Regions from separate parts of the Homo sapiens genome. Here region 2 is linked to region 1. A link means that fine-mapping ties the variant in region 1 to the expression of a gene that starts in the linked region. Tissue or cell type: whole blood. Region 1 holds a variant in brackets; the other region holds the start of a gene. All regions are shown on one strand. Distances are from middle to middle. Region 1 overlaps GCLM (glutamate-cysteine ligase modifier subunit). Region 2 holds the start of GCLM (glutamate-cysteine ligase modifier subunit).

The links.
Region 2: it holds the start of GCLM, and the variant in region 1 is fine-mapped to the expression of GCLM in whole blood (INTERVAL, PIP above 0.99).

What each region holds. Positions count from the first base shown.
Region 1 is chr1:93,882,489-93,890,781 of GRCh38, forward strand. It overlaps GCLM (glutamate-cysteine ligase modifier subunit), which reads right to left. Exons shown (of 7, transcript NM_002061.4): 7 at 2,711-6,671. The coding sequence ends at 6,502. Among named protein-coding and RNA genes, the nearest start is that of DNTTIP2, 7.4 kb to the left of the region's middle. The variant C/CT (reference allele first, on the strand shown) is at 3,724.
Region 2 is chr1:93,905,290-93,913,584 of GRCh38, forward strand. It overlaps GCLM (glutamate-cysteine ligase modifier subunit), which reads right to left and starts at 4,141. Exons shown (of 7, transcript NM_002061.4): 1 at 3,749-4,141. The coding sequence starts at 3,874. It overlaps LOC124904221 (a long non-coding RNA gene), which reads left to right and starts at 4,303. Exons shown (of 2, transcript XR_007066230.1): 1 at 4,303-4,865. RefSeq lists silencers at 3,555-3,604, 3,655-4,014, 4,225-4,464 and an enhancer at 4,505-4,664.

The DNA.
Region 1 (8,293 bases):
AGAATTAAGGAACTCAGTCTGACAACGTGTGAGGCACTGAGTCCTGCCAACAACTACACGAGTGAGCTTGGAAACAGACCCTCAGTCCAGCCTTCAGGTGAGACTGCAGTCTTGACTTATCCATTGCTGCATCTGGATGCCTCAAAGTCATCCAGATACAACAATAGATAACCAGTAGTTATAGATTAACTTCATCTCTCCTAAAATTTCAAGTAAAATAAATAATACAGGCCAGGTACAGAGGCTCATACCTGTAATCCCAGCACTTTGGGAGGTTGAGGAGGCAGGATCACTTGAGCCCAGGAGTTTGAGACCAGCCTGGGCAACATAACAAAACCCCATCTCTACAAAATATATAAAAATTAGCCAGGCATGGTGGCATGCGCCAGTAGTCCCAGCTACTTGGGAGGCTGAGGTGGGAGGATCACTTGAGCCTGGGAGGTTGAGGCTGCAGTGAGCCATGATCATGCCACTGCACTCCAGCCTGGGTGACAGAGCGAGACCACGTCTTAAAAAAAAAAAAAAGAAAAAAGAAATAATACAGTATGTACTCATGTCTAGCTTCTTTCACTCAGCATAGTGTTTCTGTAATTCATCCATGTTATTGTGTATACCAGTAGTTGATTCTTTTTTATTGCTGAGTATTTCATTGTATGACTATATAACAATGGATTTATCCATTCAGCTGTTGATAGACATTTGGGTTGTATCTGGTTTTCAATATTGTATTTGGGGGCTTTTAGAATTCTGTAATGTCAAATGATCATTTAAGATTGAGTGCAAACTAAGCTGGGTGTGGTGGCATGTGCCTGTAGTCTCAGCAACTTGGGAGGCTGGAGCAGGAGGATTGTTTAGTTCAGGAGTTCTAGGCAGTAGTATGCGATGATCACACCTGTGAATAACCACTGCACTCCAATCTGGGCAACATAATGAAAACTGATCTCTATAAAAAACAAAAACAAAAACAAAAAACAAAGGTTGAGTGCAAAATAAAGACATTTCAGACAAATGGGATCTAGAAAATTTACTGTCACTAAAGACCTTTGGTAAAGAATTACTAAGGAGGCTAGGTACTGTGTCTCATGCCTGTAATCCCAGCACTTTGGGAGGCTGTGGTGAGAGGATCACTTGAGTCCAAGAGTTCAAGACCAGCCTGGGCAACATAGCGAGATCCTGTCTCTACAAAAATAAAAGTTAGCCAGGTGTGGTGGTGCATGTCTGTAGTCCCAGCTACTTGAGAGGCTGAGGTGGGAGGATGGCTTAAGCCTGGGAGGTTGAGGCTGCAGTGAGCCATGATCATGCCACAGTACACCAGCCTAAGAAACAGAGTGAGATCCCTGTCTCAAAAAAAAAAAAAACAAAAAAAAAAAACTTGAATAGAATGCAAGAATCAACAGTGAGCAAAGAAAGAGGGAAAATAATCAAAATAAGTAATGTTCATTGTAAAACATGAACCTTAAAATAATGGACCAGCAGACACATCAAAATCTTGCATGACATTTTACACATTTAGTCATTGCTGAGGAAACATGTTAAAGCTTTTGTTGACTTCTCTGGTAGCGGAACTACATATGACCATATCCTGATATATTTAGAGGAAATTAGCAAGCTTTCATCTTTTTATGACTTTTCCAAACTTAACCTACGCTTATCTCAACAGAAGCCATTCCTTTCTATAAGAATAAGCTTTTGAAGATGTTTTCCTTGAACTTCTAAAGTTTACATATTAACTACTCCATCATTCAATAGGGGCATATTTACAAACCAGGCAAACAAGGGTTTCTGCCCAGAATGCCTACCACACCTTGTCATCTGACCCTAGTCTAAAGCTAATTTCTTCAGGGAAGTTTTTCTTATCCTTAACCTGCTACTCAGTCCCACTTCCTTCCACATGCCCCAGTCCTTTTCATTACTTCTATCAACAGATACAGCTTTTTTTTTTTTTTTGAAACGGAGTCTTGCTCTGTCACCAGGCTGGAGTGCAGTGGCATGATCTTGGCTCACTGCAACCTCCAACTCCCTGGTTCAAGCGATTCTCCTGCCTCAGCCTCCTGAGTAGCTGGGACTACAGGCACATGCCACCACGCCCAGCTAATTTTTGTATTTTTAGTAGAGACAGGGTTTCACCATGTTGGCCAGGATGGTCTCAATCTCCCGACCTCGTGGTCTGCCCACCTCGGCCTCCCAAAGTGCTGGGATTACAGGCATGAGCCACTGTGCCCGGCCTTTTTTCTTTTTTTGGGGGACAGAGTCTGGCTCTGTCACCCATGCTGGAGTGCAGTGGTGTGATCTCGGCTCACTGCAACCTCCACCTCCCAGGTTCAAGTGATTCTTATCCCTCAGCCTCCCAAGTAGCTGGGATTACAGGCATGTACCACCATGCCCGAATAATTTTTGTATTTTTAGTAGAGACTGGGTTTCACCATGTTGGCCAGGCTGGTCTCGAACTTCTGGCCTCAAGTGATCTGCCCGCCTCGGCCTCCTAAAGTGCTGGAATTACAGGTGTGAGCCACTGCGCCCAGCCAACAGATGCAGCCTTTTATTGCTCTTATTCACATACAGATTCCTCCCTTTCCCCCCAAATATATCGTATATTCCTTGGGTATAGGAGTTATTTTTCATCTGTGTCCATCTGTAGCACAGTGCCTAACACATAGCAGGCATTCAATAAATCTTTGTGGAATGAATGAATGCATAAATAGCTTTATGATTTGGATGTTTTTAAATTATTAATTTATTTTCAAATCATACTCAGTTTGAGTTCAAATAGTTCAAAAATCAATATAATGCTTCAGGATGCTTCCAGCTATTGAAACAACCCAATTAAAAAATATACAACTCACACTTTATTTTAGTTAAATTCATAATGTAGGTAATATTAAAAATTATTATAAACATTTAATAATGCTTTATAATTTGCTATTATAGTACACCACTACAGACACATAAAAAGTTGACTTATCTAATTAAAACATTTTCCCTTCCTATGTTTCTAATTCTGAAAACTATAAAAATATTAAAGTCATGTTACATATTTTTCAAAAATAAAACTGCCATATCCCATTGCCAACTTTACATGAAAAAGGTATATGTTCTGGTATATTAGGAAGTTAATGATGAAAAATATAGGTTCAGAATTTTAATTTGGTGTATTTGAATATGAAAACACAAATGACACAAATGGTTTAAGTCTTCATTAAAACAAGCTTCACATTTCTCTGAATGCATATTTTGCAGAAGGATGAACTGCTAGCCAACATACAATAAATATATCAATTGTTTACATTCCCAAATTTTGAAAATACTGGGTGAAAAATCTAGAAAGACAGTGTTAAAGGAGCATAATTAAATGAACCTTAGACCTTTTATCATTGAAAATTAAGATCCTAATTTTAGTTACTGCTTGGCTGTGGTATGGGAAAGTCTGAACTATTCATGCAAAATAGAATAATTTTTTATTTTCCATTTTATACATAGCTGCTATCCAAATGATCTTTTTTGAAAAATGAAAAATTATTAGCTATTATTTGTGATTCAATTTCTAGCAATGGCCATCATAGTATGGTCTTTTACATCATGTGAAAATACTTGTTGCTTTTGGTGACTACAGTTTCATGGATGGGAATTCAAGATAGACTCATAACAGAACAAATTCCAAGTTACAGTACATTGTGTTAAAGTAAGGCTCCACTGTATTTTGGACATGTAATAAACAAGCTACAG[C/CT]TTTTTTTTTCATATTTACTGGAAAAAAAACAATTATATAAACTTTCTACCTTGGTCTCACTGGATGCACATCTCCTCAGAAAACATCTCTTATATAAACTATTGATAACTTAGCTTTCAGTTTTAAGTAATTATTTGGTAGTATTACCACTCTCTATTTTATGGCTTTTTAAACATTAAGTCCTTAAATATTTGAAAAGTGTTCACTATATTCTGATAGTTCATGAAAAAAAGATGTGAACATCAGCCTGGAAAACATATATAAAGCCTTAAAAATCAGTGTTTTAAAAGAGTATTCAATAATAGAAAATCAAGAGTAGAGAGGTAAAAGTAAAAACTCATCAAAAAATTCCATACATGATCCCCTTCAGAAAATGAATCTATAGTCTTGCTTCTTTGTCAAGAGTTGAGGGTGCAGGTAGGAGATCACCAAAAAGCTCTGCTGAAGTTTAGATACATTAGCAACTAAGTTTTTTTTTCCCCCACTTTCAAAATAACCCTTCAAACAACCCATTTTTATAAGTCCAGGGTTATAAAAACAATAAATGGGATATTAAAGTTCCCTCTTAAAATATCTTGGCCAGTTCACTGTATAGATTTAAAATAAAATGAACGCTTGTTTAAGGACTTATATGAAAAAAATGTTGGGCATTTCCAAATGTAAAGATGAACTATATATATATTTAATAACATTACATACAATTAATATAAAGGCTAGAAGGCATAAGTAGCTCAATATCTAAACAAGTTTTCCCAGGCAAATCACATGATTTCACATAATTTTTCTTTTTTTTTTTTTTTTGAGACGCAGTCTCGCTCTGTCGCCCAGGCTGGAGTGCAATGGCGTGATCTCGGCTCACTGCAAACTCCGCCTCCCAGGTTCAAGCGATTCTCGTGCCTCGCCTCCAAAGTAGCTGGGATTACAGGAGCCCGCCACCACGCCTGGCTAATTTTTGTATTTTTAGCAGATACAGGGTTTCACCATGTTAGCCAGGCTGGTCTAGAACTCCTGACCTCAGGTGATCATCTGCCTTGGCCTCCCAGAGTGCTGGGATTACAGGCATGAGGTGTGCCCGGGCAGATTTCACATAATTTTAATGATCAAATTACCCAATCAGTAAACCACAAAATCCTACTTAGGAAAAGGGTCTATAATATTTATTTTGAATATGGAACCATAGTTCTTTTTCCCTAGGTTGAGAAAACTTGAGCAAAATTAGTTTTATTTAGGCCTGTGGTTTAAAAATATTGAGATACAAGAGTTTTTTTTTTTTTTTGAGATGGAGTCTCGCTCTGTCGCCCAGGCTGGAGTGCAGTGATGTGATCTCGGCTCACTGTAACCTCCGCCTCCCGGGTTCAAGCGATTCTCCTGCCTCAGCCTCCCAAGTAGCTGAGATTACAGGCGAGTGCCACCACGCCCAGCCAATTTTTGTATTTTAGTAGAGATGGGGTTTTACCATGTTGGTCAGGCTGGTCTCAAACTCCTGACCTCGTGATCTGCCCACCTCGGCCTCCCAAAGTGCTGGGATTACAGGTGTGAGCCACTGCGCCCGGATGAAATACAAGAGATTTTTAAAGAAGTTTTCAAACTATTCAGGTTACAGACACAAATTTATAGAATTAAGGAGATTTATAGTGTACATCAAAGTTCATAGCTTATTTATTTGCAATTTTGTGGTTCGTAAACTAATGAAGAATTATACTAAATGACCTATATAGTCTCTTTTAGCTATAAACTTTCAATTATATTATTCTGCTTTAAAATAATTAAGACCATATCTCAAAGTTGTTTAAGTAGATAATGTCGGCCCTGAATTAAGGATTTTTTTTTCATCCCCTTTCTGGCTTTTAGTCCTTCCTAGTCAGTTATTAATGGGGAATAAATATTACACATTTTACTCAACTGATTCTTAATTCCTAGCTCTATTGCCCCCTCCTCTCTCCAGAGCCCACAGTATCCCAACATATGGTAAATACTCAATACTTATTGAGGATTCTTGAATGAGTAGCAATATATACTATGGATGGATCAATAATTTAAAAGAATCTGGATGGAGGTGACAGTAGTTGCTTTTATAAAACCCCCAAACAATAATTTCAAAGCTTCTAGTCTCCTTTCAGATTTACTTTGGTTTGTCTTTATAAGTAATAAAAAGACAGAATATGGCACAAGAATACAAGGTTAAATTATTACAGCTAAACTATAAGCAAGGACACATAAAAAAAAATTTAAGTTTCCATTCATGTATTGAAGAGTGAATTTTATTTACACTACTAGTAAATCCCAGCTACTCCAGTTACTCTGATATATCTCATCAATGACAGGAAAAATATCTTCTTCCAGTATTTCAGTTTTAACAATTGTAATTAAATTGCTTGGTTATAATAAGAGTTAAGAAGCAATTAATGAATTTTTTTTGGAAATAAAAAATATGTATATACATTACCCTGATACCTAGGCCAAAATATATCTAACAACAAATTTTCTTGATTTATATTAGTCATAAAAATAAAGGAAAAATATATTGCAAGTATTTTCTTTATAGACAATTTCAATTAGAAAACAATAGTTTAAGGAAAGCAATACAGAGGTTCATGAGAATGGATTGATATGGAGGCAAGATAAGTATTTAAAACTTGACAGACAACATACTGTCAAATATGACGAAAGAATATCTGCCTCAATGACACCATTTACAGGCAGTAACTAGATTTTTACACATCTCAATTTTCTCTCATATTGAAGGAAATTACAGGTAAGTTATGCTCCTAAGTCAGTTAAGAACCCCTTCTTTTAGCTTGTAAAATGTAGCCTTTTGATTTGATAATTCCTCTACTTTTCACAATGACCGAATACCGCAGTAGCCACAGCGGCACCCACTCGTGCGCTTGAATGTCAGGAATGCTTTCCTGAAGAGCTTCTTGGAAACTTGCTTCAGAAAGCAGTTCTAAAAGAAACAACAACAAACAAAACTCCAGCGTGTTAAATTGGAAAACAAAAAAGCACTTTAGTATGTAGGTAAGCATTTAACATAACAAAAGAAACACCTCAACATTTAATATATAATATGCTTATTCTTCATGTGTGTGCTATGAATCTGAACCAGAATATTAGAAATTCCCAGGCAGTTATTTAAAAAGTATCTACACCTGTACCCCAGCCTATTTAATTCTTAACTTTTGGTGAGTGGAGCCTAGACATCTGCAGTTTTTTAAAGATCTCCAGGTGATTCTAATGTATAGTCAGGGAAAATACAGGAAAGTCTAAAGAAAAAAAAAGTAACTGATAATCCTATCAATTGGAGATGATATAACATTGTCATGCATTTCCTTACAACTTTTTTGGTGTATATGAGTATATATCTTCATATATATATATATATCTTCATCCATATCTTGAATCTCTATATATCTCTAGATCTTATATCTGTATGTGTGTGTGTATATCCATATCTTACAAAATTAGAAATCACACTGTAGTTAAAGCCTTATTTGCTTATCTTTTTCCACTTATATTGTGAATATTTTCCCATGTAATAGTCTGTGAAAAGATCATTTTTAATAATTTCCCCATTACTATATTACATAGATATCATAATTCATATATTTCCTTATTATTGGTCAAAACATTTATGTTTTTCCTAATATTTTGCTAATAAGAATAATGCCAGGATAAACATTCTTTTTTTAAAAAATATATATATATATATTTTTTTTTGAGATGGCATCTCACTCTGTTGCCCAGGCTGGAGTGCAATGGTGTGATCTTGGCCCACTGCAACCTCCACCTCCCGGGTTCAAGCAATTCTTCTGCCTCAGCCTCCCAAGTAACTGGGATTACAGGCATGCACCACCATGCCTGGCTAATTTTATATTTTAGTAGAGATGGGGTTTCACCATGTTGGTCAGGCTGGTCTCGAACTCCTGACCTCAGGTGATCCACCCACCTTGGCCTCCTAAAGTGCTAGGATTACAGGTGTGAGCCACCGTGCCCGGCCTCGAAAAATATTTTCAAACCAAAAGCGGTTTATTACACACACAAAAAGTTGTGTGATGGTAGGACAGAAGGACTATATATATATTATAACCATATTAATTACAGTACATTAAAATGGTGGTTTGCATTACAAATAAGTCTGTAAGTTTAAATATACTAGTGTTATTATCCAATGTATAGACTTTATATAATACATTTATCAGGAATGCCAAAAAAAGCCATATACACATAAATAATGCCCATTTTACAGGTGACATTTTAAAAATGAAAACACCAATGGCTCTGATGACACTTGGGGCATTGATCCATAAAAACCCTTTCTAAAAATAGAAATATTTGTACCAGCAATGCTTTCTTTAAGCATTTGAATACTTAAATCATTGCAAGACCATTTAAATAAATTTTCATTATCAACTATGTCTTACAAAAAAAAAGTCTACACATAAATTTATCTCCAAATATGGAAGAAACAAACCGTCACAATGATGCAGATGATGAACATTTTAAAATGCATGCCTGGCTGTGGAATGAAGGGCCAAAGTACAAGTACATTCTTAAAGCTAGATACACGCT
Region 2 (8,295 bases), 23 kb after region 1:
TTTCTCAAAGACAAACAAATTAAATTATTAGAGAATAAGTGTGGCTGGTAAATCCTACCTCAGATTCACCTGTGCTGTTTATTAAAATTTCAGACTCCTGAGCCTAATCCTAGACCCACTGAATCATTCTCCAAGAGCAGTTTGGACTTTCATTTTAACAAGCATCCTAAGGAGAGTACTTTATCTACGTACTCTAAAGTCTGAGAACCACCAGGATAGACATATCTTGCAGAACTCAACTTGTATGACACTCCAGAAGTCATTTCGTAACATTTAGGTGCACCTCTAACCTATCTTCCATGTTTTCTTAGATAAACAAAAAAAAATTTATACAAATATTATAGTATGTTGTAAATTAATTCAAACATACTTTATTAAAGTGTATTTCAGACTTATTTGATAGTAGTCCAAAGTAAGACATACATTCACATAGTGAGCAAAGACCTATATACATATAATGGAACAAAACAGTCATAAAGCGGTATTTATGCTCACAACATGCCAGGCACTCTAATGGCTTCCAATATATTAATTAGAAAAAATATACTGGTCCATGACTCACTGAACTGATTTATGACCACTAATGGGCCAAACCTGGCAATCTGAAATCACTGCCTTATTAGATAACCAAGGACACAGTGTTTTGCATTCTTCTGTGGGCAATCAATGAAAACACAAATGAGTAACTAGAGGCAAGCCCCTGAATTGCAAAAGCACTTTCCTAATAGAAACAGCAGACACTAAACTTCTGAACTATCTGAACTATGACTGCTTATGATAAAAACTGATACAATCACTTTACTACGTATATCTTAGTACACATGATTACAAGAGATAACTGGTTTATCAATTTAAGGGCACAGAACTACCTATGTTAAGATTTACAATCCATAATAATAATTTACATGCTAGTCACAACAATTCACTTGAATTCAAATTATAAGGTCTAGATCTTTATGTAAAGCATATTTATAATCAAATTTAAGTCAGTGGATGAAAAGGAGTTGATAATCATTCCAGATACAATTATAAGTCATAGTATTTTCTTAAAAATTAGTAAAAATGGAAGGAGCAGAACCAACTAGAGGTTAAAAATTCTATCGGAAGTGCTTTGGCTCAAATCGTGGGATAATTCTAAGAAATTTCCCTCTGGAAGGATGGCTCATTTGCACACTTGAGGCTTTCCTGATGAATTCCTCAATTCAGGAAGGTAAGTCTATTTTTATAGTATTCACCCTCTTCTTGAAACCATTTCTTTAATTAATCTTGGATTCTGCAAAATGTCAGGACAAATAATAAAACAGTCTAATGTTACAATTACGTAGGAAATTCATTGACTTTATCACAAGCCTAATTATTTTTAATCTTGTAAATTACATGTTTGCTATATTGACTAAACATTAACCTTGTACTTGGGTTAATGTTTGTCATTAACATTAATGTTTATGTTTGTTCTCCGCTCTCTTCATTCTTATAATACACACCCAATATCACTGAGTATAAGCATCACCACAACTTAGCCTACCATTAGATCTGGAGTTGTATAAGAATTTTTTAAATACCATGATTCAACCGGTCAAACACCCTTACAACAAAGAACTGGGCAAAACAGTCCTATAATGGTCCACTTACAAACTATTTGATTTCATAAAATTCCAGTGAGACAAAAAATCTGGGCAGAGGTCATAACATTTTTTAAAAAATTAGAACTAGAAGAGACCTTGTAAGAAATTTAACTGAACTCTTGACCCAACACGTACATTTTCTCAAAAATAAGTGATTTGTTCAGTTTACTTAATTTCTTCAGTGAAGCGGAACTGTTCCAAGTAGTACATCCCAATTTGGAGCTCTGGGTGTTACAAAGTTCTTTTACATAGAAACAAAATGTGCCTCCCCTTTTGCTCTTACCAAGCAGTCATAGTTTCCCTACAGTATGATGCCATTCCTTCAAGTTTTCCTGAAATGTTTTCTAGTTTCTTTAGTTTTATCCTACTGTTATGAAGCACCCTAAATAAAACACTAGAAACCAGAATTAGTCCTTTGAACAATGTTTTACAAACTGTGGTGTGTGACTCTGAGCATCAAGAAATCAACATTTTAAAAATTAAAATAAAAGAAAAAATCAGAATATACGGTATAAGGGCTAATATCTTTTTGTGAAACCTGTTTCAGATATACTGATTATACAACTATTAACTGGATTGCAAAGTAAAATGTACTTCTTACTGTGTTTGCAGTCAGAAACTCTTTTGAGTCACTACTTTAGAGTATGCTATTGTGAGATAGGTAAAATTTCACCCAATAATATCAATATACGTGCAAAATTCTGTATTGAACTACCACCAACAGTACTGGAAGAAATTAAGAGTCTATGTACCGAATACAGAAATATTTATCTGTGGGAGAAACAGCCAAAGTAGGTGGTTTAAATAAAACAAAACATACACACTGAGCTGGAACGTGAACACAGAATATGGTACAGACTCAGATTCCTACTAAAGTTACAAGCAAGAGTTCTCATCTCTTGATGGGCACTGACCCCAACAACAGGCCTGGGCACAGGTCCAGCACTTAACTCAGAGGGATGCCGTGTGCTGCTGCATGGTCTGTTACCAACATCTCATAGAAGAGAGCAGAAACCACTTAGGAACACAGCTGATTTAGGAAGGTTTTTCTAAACACACATAGTTTAGGAAGGTTTTTCTCTTAATTAAGATTTATCTTTCTGATGGAACCAGATGACAGGGAGATAGATGCCTGCATGGTGAGCGTTTTCATATATTACCTCTTAATTCTCACAACAACCTGATGAGGAAGGTGTTATTATCCAACTTTAAAGTAATTTTCCAAAGTCATATAGCTCCTAAATCTAAAGATTTTGTTATTTTTTAAATACTAAAATTGTCCCATACCACCAATATGCACAATGTGCAGTGGATGACTATCCGCTCAGAAATGGCCAACAAATAGGTAACAAGTTTGTAATTCCAGATTAATCTCTGTCACCTCCAACTAGTGACTAGTCTTTTTATTTTCCAGTTTTTACAAAACTTTAATTTTTGAATTGATAGATTATATTTGTACATATTTATGGGGCACATGTGATATTCTGTTACATGCATAGAATGTACAATGATATTGTTACATGCATAGAATGTGTACTGATAAAGCATACATAGACGCACAGATAAGTGCATAAAATGTGTAATGACTAAAGTCAGGGTATTTAGGGTATTCCAAAGCCAAAATTGAGTGCTTACTCATTTGCCTCACTGCAATAGAGAGTCTAATGTCAACATTCTAAAAGTTAGGTGTACTATGAATACTACTTCATCTGAATGCACCAAAGGATAATCTCCGAAAATATTCCTTTACCTGGACAGGGTGGGGGAAGGAAGCGAGAGATGTGGAGAGAGACGGAGCGACGTCCTGGCCCTCTGTGACCTCCGTGCCAGGAAGAGGGACCCAGGATGTTTGAGAGTTTTGCTACCAGCCTTAAGCACCGAGAGAGGTGTCACTCAGTGCGCAGCTGCACCGGCTAAGTTTTTTAGACGCGTTGCCCTCGGCAGCGGGTTTGGACCCAAGGTCGCGTCGACACTGGCCTCAGCATCTGACCGCGGGCGGAGCCCAGGTGCGCGCGAGGCCCTGCCACCCTCCCTCGCCCGCGGGCGCTTCTCCCTTGCCGGAACCGCCCGGCCCCGCCCGAGGCCTGCCCCGGGAGCCCCGCGGCGAGTGTCGCCACGCTCACCTCCTCGCTGTGCGTGGACGGGCACTTCTTCCGCAGGCGGCCCCAGTTCAGCAGGTTCCCCGTCTGCAGGTGCAGGGTGCGGGCCCGCGCCAGGAGCGCCTTGGCCGCGCGGCTGTCGGTGCCCATGGCAGCGGCCGCCCAGGGGCCGCGCAGCGAAGGGGCTGCGGGCGGGCGGGCAGGCAGGCGGCCGCCCCACAGGACGCGGTGCCCGAGGCCCGAGAGAGACCCGAGAGGGAGCGCGAGGCTGCCGGCGCCGCGCGGCTGGAGCCTGGTCTGCGCTCGGGCCCGAGGGAGGCCGGACGGCGGCTGGGCGGCGGCGGGAAAGGAAGGCACCGGTGGCTGCGGCTCCGGCTCCGGCTACTGCGGCCGCAGCGGGAGAGCTGATTCCAAACTGAGGGAGCTGTTTCCTGGAAGACAATGACTAAGCAGAAATCGTAGCCGAGAAAGTGCTTCGTAACCGTTACTCATCCCGCGGCGGGGCAGGGGCGGGGCGCGAATGGGCTGCGGGACGCCGGCCCGCAAGTGACTGGCCCTTGGCCTGCGGCGGGCGTGGCGACGGGTGGTGCGCGGCGGGCGCGCGGGTCGAGAGAGCGTGGCGGCGCGGCCCGGAGCGCAGCGCGCGGCAGGGCTCCCCCTGGCGGTCAGAGGACAGCGCGAGGCAGACACCGCCTCCGCCTGGTGAGGTAGACACCGCCTCCGCCTGGTGAGGTCTCCCGGCGTTCAGGTCGCGGCTCCGCCCACGGCCGCCCCAGGGTGGGCTTCCTACACGTCTCTTTAAAGGGCAGCCTGAGCGGCCACCGGGACTCGGAAATGCTACGTAGTTTTCGTTCTCAGAAGCAGCTGTTTATGCGCAAGCGCCCCCTTCTTCTTTTCGCTTTGCTACCTTCAAGGACCTTCTCCCAAACTGCTAATTTTTCTTCATCCGTTAAAGGTCTATTGATTCACATTATTTGCTGGCAGTGTGTGAAGTCAACGAACAAGACTGAGTCTTTGCCCTTGAGACGCGTACACTCTACCCAGAGACAAGTTCTAAGCACAGGAAACAAGTAATTTTATAAGAACATCATAGGGCAGTTATTCTCCAGATGAATTCAGATTAAAGAGGACACTTGAGCCGGTGAGATCACAGAAAGCTTTTATCACCCACCCCTTTAGAGGTGGTCGAGATTATTTACCCCTATTAAATTTCACGTGTGGTGGTGGACTCGGTATAAACATCAAATTGAACATGTATTGAGCTTTCCTCAACAATCTTTCACATTCGTTGAGGTGAATCAGATTATTAAAGGCAAAATGAGATTCTCATTATAAGCGGGGACAATATAGCTATTGAAAAGAGAGATGAACCAGTTGGTAAAATGGTAAGAATTAGGGGAGGGATGGGAAAAAAGATCTTTCTAGGAAGTTAGAAATTGAGCCTGATGTTGAGTAAATATTTGTTGGCTGAATGAATGATGGTAAGAGTTCATTGAACGAGCTTGCGCTGCTTTTTTTTTTTTTTTTTGGATATTGATTTTTTATTATAGTGAAAGAGCTACCCACAAGCACCACCACTACTTAAACACATTTTGATGCACTGTAACATACAATTAACATTTGTTGTAAATAATTCCAACATATACAAAAATAGCAAGAATACTATAATGAAACCCGATATAACTATCTTCTGAACTCAAGATTGAATAAGATTTGTCTATACTTTTTGTTTTATAATACTTTAAGTTCTAGGGTACATGTGCACAATGTGCAGGTTTGTTACATATGTATACAAGTGCCATGTTGGTTTGCTGCACCCATTAATTCGTTATTTACATTAGGTATTTCTCCTAATGCTATCCCTCCGCCAACCCCCCACCCCATGACAGGCCCCAGTGTGTGATGTTTCCCACCCTGTGTCCAAGTGTTCTCATGGTTCAATTCCCACCTATGAGTGAGAACATGCAGCGTTTGGTTTTCTGTCCTTGCGACAATTTGCTCAGAATGATGGTTTCCAGCTTCATCCATTCCCTACAAAGGACATGAACTCATCCTTTTTGATGGCTGCATAGTATTCCATGGTGTGTATGTGCCACATTTTCTTAATCCAGTCTATCATTGATGGACATTTGGGTTGGTTCCAAGTCTTTGCTATTGTGAATAGTGCCAAAATAAACATACCTGTGCATGTGTCTTTATAGTAGCATGATTTATAATCCTTTGGGTATATACCCAGTAATGAGATCGCTAGGTCAAATGGTATTTCTAGTTCTAGGCCCTTGAGGAGTCACCACACTGTCTTCCACAATGTTGAACTAGTTTACACTACCACTGACAGTGTAAAAGTGTTCCTAGTTCTCCACATCCTCTCCAGCACCTGTTGTTTCCTGACTTTTTAATGATTGCCATTCTAACTGGTGTGAGATGGTATCTCATTATGGTTTTGATTTGCATTTCTCTGATGACCAGTGATGATAAGCATTTTTTCATGTGTCTGTTGGCTGCATAAATGTCTTCTTTTGAAAAGTGTCTGTTCATATACTTTGCCCACTTTTTGATGGGGTTGTTTGATTTTTTCTTGTAAATTTAAGTTCTTTGTAGATTCTGGATATTAGCCCTTTGTCAGATGGGTAGATTGCAAAAATTTTCTCCCATTCTGTAGGTTGCCTGTTCACTCTGATGGTAGTTTCTTTTGCTGTGCAGAAGCTCTTTAGTTTAATTAGATCCCATTTGTCTATTTTGGCTTTTGTTGCCATTGCTTTTGGTGTTTTAGTCATGAAGTCCTTGCCCATGCCTATGTCCTGAGTGGTATTTCCTAGGTTTTCTTCTAGGGTTTTTATGGTTTTAGGTATAACATTTAAGTCTTTAATCCATCTTGAATTAATTTTTGTATAAGGTGTAAGGAAGGGATCCAGTTTCAGCTTTCTACATATGGCTAGCCAATTTCCCCAGCACCATTTATTAAATAGGGAATCCTTTCCCCATTTCTTGTTTTTGTCAGGTTTGTCAAAGATCAGATGGTTGTAGATGTGTGGTGTTATTTCTGAGGCCTCTATTCTGTTCCATTGGTCTGTATCTCTCTTTTGTACCATGCTGTTTTGGTTACTGTAGCCTTGTAGTATGGTTTGAAGTCAGGTAGCATGATGCCTCCAGCTTTGTTCTTTTTGCTTAGGATTGTCTTGGCAATGCAGGCTCTTTTTTGGTTCCATATGAACTTTAAAGTAGTTTTTTCCCATTCTGTGAAGAAAGTCATTGGTAGCTTGATGGGGATGGCATTGAATCTATAAATTACCTTGGGCAGTATGGCCATTTTCACACTATTGTTTCTTCCTATCCATGAGCATGGAATGTTCTTCCGTTTGTTTGTGTCCTCTTTTATTTTGTTGAGCAGTGGTTTGTAGTTCTCCTTGAAGAGGTCCGTCTCATCCCTTGTAAGATGGATTCCTAGGTATTTTATTCTTTTCAAAGCAATTGTGAATGGCAGTTCTCTCATGATTTGGCTCTCTGTTTGTCTGTTATTGGTGTAGAGGAATGCTTGTGATTTTTGCACATTGAATTTGTATCCTGAGACTTTGCTGAAGTTGCTTATCAGCTTAAGGAGATTTTGGGCTGAGATGATGGGGTTTTCTAAATATACAATCATGTCATCTGCAAACAGGGACAATTTGACTTCCTCTTTTCCTATCTGAATACCCTTTATTTCTTTCTCTTGCCTGATTGCCCTGGCCAGAACTTCCAACACTATGTGGAATAGGAGTGTTGAGAGAGGGCATCCCTGTCTTGTGCCAGTTTTCAAAGGGAATGCTTCCAGTTTTTGCCCATTCAGTATGATATTGGCTGTGGGTTTGTCATAAATAGCTCTTATTATTTTGAGATACATTCCACGAATACCGAGTTTATTGAGAGTTTTTAGCATGAAGGGCTGTTGAATTTTGTCAAAGGCCTTTTCTGCATCTATTGAGATAATCATGTGGTTTTTGTCTTTCGTTCTGTTTATGTGATGGATTACTTTTATTGATTTGCGTATGTTGAACCAGCCTTGCATCCCAGGGATGAAGCCAACTTGATCGTGGTGGATAAGCTTTTTGATGTGCTACTGGATTCAGTTTGCCAGTATTTTATTGAGGATTTTCACATTGATGTTCATCAGGGATATTGGTATAAAATTCTCTTTTTTGTGTGTGTCTTTGCCAGGCTTTGGTATTAGGATGATGCTGGCTTCATAAAATGAGTTAGGAAGGATTCCCTCTTTTTCTATTGATTGGAATAGTTTCAGAAGGAATGGTACCAGCTCCTCTTTGTACCTCTGGTAGAATTTGGCTGTGAATCTGTCTGGTCCTGGACTTTTTTTGGTTGGTAGGCTATTAATTATTGCCTCAATTTCAGAACCTGTTATTGGTCTATTCAGGTGTTTATAGTATTCTCTGATGGTAGTTTGTATTTTCTGTGGGATCAGTGGTGATATCCCCTTTATCATTTTTTATTGCATCTATTTTATTCTTCTCTCTTTTCTTCTTTATTAGTCTTGCTAGTAGTCTATTTTGTTGATCTTTTCAGAAAACCGGCTCCTG